Linked DNA regions of Homo sapiens. The protein of the gene in region 2 purifies or fractionates together with the protein of the main gene of each other region. This does not show direct contact. Each region holds a gene or a part of one and is shown on either strand. Other genes may lie near its edges. The genes, in order: SPTB and ACOT6.

Evidence for each region.
Region 1: the proteins of ACOT6 (region 2) and SPTB purify together in Homo sapiens (affinity purification with mass spectrometry; one large-scale study listed by BioGRID and IntAct). This does not show direct contact.

What each region holds. Positions count from the first base shown.
Region 1 is NC_000014.9:64,771,607-64,775,426, forward strand, and holds part of SPTB (spectrin beta chain, erythrocytic), read right to left. Parts: exon of another isoform or gene 3,813-3,820; intron 3,798-3,812; coding exon 3,519-3,797; intron 2,922-3,518; coding exon 2,791-2,921; intron 1,819-2,790; coding exon 1,614-1,818; intron 1,349-1,613; coding exon 974-1,348; intron 1-973.
Region 2 is NC_000014.9:73,615,257-73,618,012, reverse strand, and holds part of ACOT6 (acyl-coenzyme A thioesterase 6), read right to left. Parts: intron 1,170-2,756; exon of another isoform or gene 1,020-1,169; coding exon 821-1,019; intron 1-820. UniProt on the Homo sapiens protein: Catalyzes the hydrolysis of acyl-CoAs into free fatty acids and coenzyme A (CoASH), regulating their respective intracellular levels.

The DNA.
Region 1 (3,820 bases), 8.8 Mb from region 2:
TTCTTAACCATTCTGTGTGCTGCCTCTCCAAGGAAGTGGTTGCACCAGATCCCCTGATTGAGGCTGGCCCTGGGGACAGTGAAACCTCACTCCTAAGACCTCAGTGGGGCTACACCTATCTCAGGGGCCCTGGCATCCCCAAATGCAACAGCCACACACCAGGCCCTCCACTCCAGCTGGAGGACACTTCCCTAAGAGGTCCCCTTTTGGATGAACCAGGGGCCCAGCCAACCCTGGTGTTCTGTCCCCAAGCCCTGCAGGGCTGGCCTGGGATTGCGCAGCCAGCCTACCTCTCCCTGCTGCACTGGAAGCTGGGGGAGCCCTCAGCAACAGGGGCCCCCTTGCATTTGCCCTTTCTATCACACCAAGCTCTGGGGCACCCTACGGATCTGCGGAGGGCACTCCAGTGATGGGGCAGGGGTCTGAACAGTAGAACTTGGGGGCTCTCCAGCTCCCATGTGGAAAGGCTGAAGTGCCCGGTGGCTAAGTATGTGGGGTCTATAGCTAGACTGCCAGGGTCTGAGCCCTGGCTCCACTTCGTACCTACATGTTCCTGGGAAACTTATGGGTCTTCTACCTCTCCCTTTTCTCATCTACAAAGTGCAGGGAATATTAGTAGCTGCCTCAGAGGACTGCCATGAGGGTCCAGCGGCTACATACATTGCTCAGAAGAGCACCTGGTGCTAGAAAAGTGCTGTGCGTGTGTCCACTAATAGTACTGCACAACTGGAGAAACTGCAACCGTATAGTATTGTATGCATTGGCCTTTTGTGAGGATTCAGTTTAAAGAATGACTTCTGAAGCTAAGGAACATCTGAAAGCCACTGCTCCCAGCCCTGAGCTCCTGGCTGTCTAAGGAGGCAAAACCTCCTGGCACTTATCCTAGAGGTTTTCCTGCTGACAGCCAGGTGGGGACTGACACCCAGGGCTCCTGGAAATTGGTAGCAGGTGGGCGGCAGGGGGCTGAAGGTACCTGGACACCCAGCAGGTGGAGCTCCCGCTCGAAGGCTGTGTGCACCCGGTGGAAGGACTCGGCCGTGCTGGCGTCCAGCCCCACGTCCTCGGGCAGCTCGCGGTGCTTCTCGTCGATGAGGCCCAGGATCTCGGCACCCGTGTAGAAGTAGCGGTGCAGGTCATAGGAGGCGGCCAGCAGCTGCATGCGCGTGTCAATGAGCTCCAGGAGGTCTGCCCACATCTCGTTCAGCCCGTCCTTCCACTCGGCGATGGTGGCCGCCTCGCTGTGGCCCGCGTCGATGAGTCGCTCGATGAAGGCATTCACATTGTCCACCCGCTCCTGCCCAATCGCCCCGGTCTCCCGGGCAAAGTCCCGGAACTTGTCCCGCAGAAGCTAGGCATGGGGCAGACAGAAATGTGGTTATGGGGGGCACAGGGGTTACAGGTGTCACCAGCTTAGCCAAAGACTTTCCCAGGCAGCAACTGCAGCTCCGGGAGCTGCGCTGTCACACCTTCCCCAGGGCAGGCCTGCATCGGCTGGTCCCGCCTCACACTGGGGAGGTTACGTCCTATGCAGCACTCTGTGTGTCTTGAGTGACGGCTGGCTGCGTCTACCGCATTAGAGAAAGACAAAAACAGCAGGAGTTGTGGCTACTCACAGTCACGTGGTCAAAGTCTTGCCCCATTTCCGGGGAAGAGGCCACTAGCTCCTTTTCTGAAATCCACTGCTCCAGGTCGTCGGTCTCCCGCTTGAGCTGGAACAGGTGGTACATGTTCTCCAGCTTGCGCTTGCGCTCTTCCGCCACGTCCTTCAGCCCTGCGTAGTGCTTGTCCACTTGCCCCTGAAGTCTGATGATCTGTTCCCTGGAATTCAAAACCAAAAAGGCCCTCAGAGACGGCAGCCACGAACCCAGAGCCGTGGCTCCAGGGAGCCAACATATGCCAACCACAGCCCCCTGGCAGGGATAGGTAGGGAGTGAAGCTCTGGAGAAATGACAGGGGCTTTGCCGGGGAAGAGCTGGGGAGAGAAGGGGCCACACCCTAGCCTCAGGGGATGACACACTGTGTCCTGGAATTCTGTCCTGGAGGGGTGCTTCCCATGGTGCCCCTCACTCTGGCAAGCTTACAGGGACAAGTGCAAATGGGGAACGCCTCCATTGTTCTTCCAGAGAGGCTGGGGGAGCAGCACTACCTGAGTGGGGCTCCCGCAGCAACAGCTCTGCTCAGCCCTCCAGGGAGGGAAAAGACATACTAGGGGCCCAGACAATGTGGCTCCCAGGGAAACCTCTGGGGTGGCTGCTGAGGACCCACAGTGGTGGGCACCCTAATGGCAGCTGAGGACAGGGCCATGGCTGGGGGCAGTGTGTGGTCTGTGGCCCAGTGGGCTTCCATTTATGCAGGATCCACAAAACCTCGCAGCCCATGTGGGCACAGGTTTCCACCTGCACTCCTACATCATGGTTCTGTCTGGACTGTGAAGTCCTGGAGACCTTCTGGACCATAAAAATAAAAGCTAAAGTAGTCTTCAGTGTCCCTTAGCATATTGTAACCCTTCGGAAAATTGGTGCTCTCAGGTCACCAAGAGGGTAGTTTTGCTAACCCCTTCTCTGATCATTTCGAAAACCAGGGCCTCGATGGCCCAGCTGGAAGTGATTCACACAAAACCAAGGCATAAAATGAAATTGGATCCATCACCAGTCCCGCAGCAATTTTCTCCAGCCCTATTTGATGGGAAAACTCTTTCCATTTTCCTTTTAAATCTGAAGGGACGTTGGCTGGTGGGCCCCTGGCTCAATCCCCATCTCCTGACCGAGTCACCACAGGGGGCGCACGCACCCCTCAGGGTGGCCTGCAGACAGCAGGCCCTGGGCCCGGCTGGCCAGCTGCTTGATGTTCCGGCCGTAGTCCTCCACCGCACGCTGCTGCCGCAAATGTCGCTTCAGCATCACAATGGCGCCCTCTTCATCCTAGGAGGCAGCAGACGGTCAGCGCCAGAGCTCAGTCTGGCCATGATCCCTCCCTTGGCAAGTTGTGCCCCCACTCCTGGAGGTGCCCGAGGGAGGAGGGGAGTAGGCTTGTGGGACACCCGCAGGAGAGCCACACATGCTTCCTTCCTGCCCTTCTGATTTCCCAGCAATGCCCGTGCCCTACCTTCCTCTCTGGACTCCCCTGATTCGTATCCGACATATACCCTTCCTTTTGTGCTCTAACCCCTGTCCCCATGAAAACATCCTATATCATTCCAGCTTTGAGAGACCCCCACCTGTCACCTCTCACCCCATCTCTTTCATAGCGTACAGAATCCAGGGTAAAGAAAAGTAGAGAACCCTTGGGTTAGAGCAAACCTAAGTGGGTAAACAGGAGGCACCTGGCTTCAGTGTGTGCCCTGCAGGGGTGTGTTCAAGGAGGCACCAAGGGAGGGCAGGGAGTCTGTGGGTTCCTTGTGCCCCTCCCCTGGCCTCACTCCTCACACAGTTGGACTCACAAGGCTCCCTACCGACAGCCAACCTCAACTCTTCCTCTCTGCCTGGGCACCCTGGCTGGTATCCCCTGCCCGAACAGACCTTGGGGATCTCATCGGAGATGACGTAGAGCTCCTGCTCGCCAATCCAGGCCTCAGCCTCGTCTGCATCCAGGTAGTACTGCTGTGCCTCGTTGGCGTCCCTCAGTCGCTGCAGCCTCCCGGCCGCTGCCTCCCGCAGCCTGTCCCAGGAGCTCTGCAGGTGCCCCAGGCGCTCCTCAAGGTCCTGGCAGTCGATCTCCGCCGCCTCCACCAGCTGCTGCCCTCTCTGCAGCACATCCTCAACCCGCGGCGTATGGCCCAGAATCTCATTCTGCAGTGTCTGCGGCCAGAAGGAAGGGCTCG
Region 2 (2,756 bases):
CACCACCATGCCCAGCTAATTTTTGTATCTTTAGTAGATGGGGTTTCACCATGTTGGCCAGGCTGGTCTCAAACTCCTGACCTCAGGTGATCTGCCCGCCTTGGCCTCCCAAAGTACTGGGATTACAGACGTGAGCCACCGCACCTGGCCAAAATGTTTTAATTAATTAATTATTTCTGTTATCAGATAAGGACTTTCTTTACAAAACCATAATACCATTATCATACCCAACAAAATTAATGATTACTTCATATAATCAAATACACCATTCTCATTCAAATGTCTCCAGTTGTCTCAAAAAATATCTCTTTATAGTCATTTTCTCTATATACATTTACATTAATCTTATTAAGGAGGAAAATTGAACTCCAGAGAGAGTAACTGCCTTATTCAGAATCATAAGGCCACTCTGTGGTAGATGCAGAGCTGGAACTTTTTTTAGTCCTGTGCTCTTTGAATTTTGGTCCACAATTACAAAGACAACTAAATAGTCAAGTCTTCAGGGATTAGAGAGAGATGGGAGAAAATGGAAATAATAATCCTAGTACAAAAACTTTTTTTGAGACAGGGGTCTCACTAAATGTTGCCCAGGCTGGTCTTGAACTCCTGGGGTCAAGCAATCCCCCGGCCTCAGCCTCCCAGGTAGCTGGGACTACAGGTGCACATCACCATGCCCAGCTTCCACCCTAGTAACCTTTGAAGGAGACTTGGTATCTCCTGGCATGTTTCTAGTTCTCAGTGTTCTGGCAGGGCTTTTGGATTCAGCCCTGCATCAGCTCTATCCCCTCTCTTCTGCACTCAGGTGATCACCAGAACGCACCTTTGGATGCTGCAGCATAAAGTCCACGGCTTCTTCAAAGTACTCCAGATGTACATCATTCAGATCTTCGGGGAGGTCTTCAAATCTGAAATAAGCCAGGGCAAGCACAGCAAAACCATGTCCGGCCAGGAGGCTGGCCCTGTATTCACAAAGGCCCCTGCTGCTCCCAAACAGATCAATGATCCCAGGAAAGGGCCCCCTGCCTGGAGAACATCACAAATCACAGGGAGCTTTAGTTTCTCAAAAGACAGTAAGCAAACAAGTTTTTGAAGCCAAGGAGATTGGGGGTAGAGAGATTGGCAGAGAAAGAACAAAATGTCTTATTTTCTCAAACAATAATGATAATATAGAGGGATAAAAAACTACATATTGGGTACAATGTATACTACTCAGGCGACAGGTGCACTAAAATCTCAGCGTTCATCACTGTACAGTTCATCCGTGTAACCCCAAACCACCTGTACACCAAAAGGTATTGAAATTAAAAAAAAAATTTTTTTTTGACAGTCTCACTCTGTCGCCCAGGCTGAAGTGCAGTGGTGCAATCTCAGCTCACTGCAACCTCTGCCCCCTGGGTTCAAGCAATTCTCCTGCCTCAGCCCCCCAAGTATCTGGAATTACAGACATGCAACAGACACCCGGCTAATTTTTTTTGTATTTTTAGTAGAGACTGGGTTTTGCCATGTTGGCCAGGCTGGTCTTGAACTCCTGACCTCAGGTGATCTGCCCACCTTGGCCTCCCAAAGTGCTGCGATTACAGGTGTGAGCCACCGCAACCGGCCTAAAACTTTTTAATGATATAAATTATTGTCACACCACTGCACTCCAGCCTGGGTGACAGAGTGAGACTCTATCTCAAAAATAATAATAATAATAATATTATTTTCACAAACAAAAATAAACCAAGTTAGAAATAACATAATGAGGCCAGGTGTGGTGGTTCATGCCTATAATCCCAGTGCTTTGGGAGGTCAAGATAAGAGGACCACTTGAGGCCAGGAATTCACGACCAGCCTGGGCAACATAACAAGACCCATCTCTACAAAAAAGTTTAAAAAACTAGCTGGGCATGATGGCACTTGCCTATAGTCTTAGCTACTCAGGAGGAAGAGGCGGGAGGATCATCTGAGCCCAAGAGTTCCAGTTTGTGGTGACCTGTGATCACACCACTGCACTGTAGCCTGTAGATCACTGTAACCTTGAATCCTTGGGCTCAAGTGACCCTCCAGCCTCAAGAAGCCACCCTCCCAAGTAGCTAGGCCCCTATGCTTGGCTAATTTTTAACTTTTTATAGAAATAGGGTCTCACTATGCTGCCTGGGCTAGTCTCAAACTCCTGGCCTCAAGCAATCCTCCCACTGCAATGCTCCCACCTCGGCCTCTTCAAGTGCTGGGATTTTAAGTGCGAGCCACTGCACTCAGCCTGTTTGTTTGTTTGTTTGTTTGTTTGTTTGTTTGTTGAGACAAGGTTTCACTCTTGTTGCCCAGGCTGCAGTGCAATGGTGCGATCTCGGCTCACTGCAACCTCCGTCTCCCCCCGGGTTCAAGCGATTCTCCTGCCTCAGCCTCCCGAGTAGTTGGTATTACAGGCATGTGCCACCACACCTGGCTAATTTTGTATTTTTAGTAGAGATGGGGTTTCACCATGTTGGTGAGGCTGGTCTCAAACTCCTGACCTCAGATGATCCGCCCACCTTGGCCTCCCGAAGTGTTGGGATTACAGGCGTAAGCCACTGCGCCCAGTCTTGTTTTTTTTTTCGTTGTTGCTGGTTTTTTTTGTTTTTTGTTTTTTTTTTTTTTTTTTTATCAGACAGAGTCTCTCTCTGTTGCCCAGGCTGGAGTGATGTGGTGTGATTTTGGCTCACTGCAACCTCCACCTGCCGGGTTCAAGCAATTCTCCTGCCTCAGCCTCCTGAGTAGCTGGGATTACAGGCGCC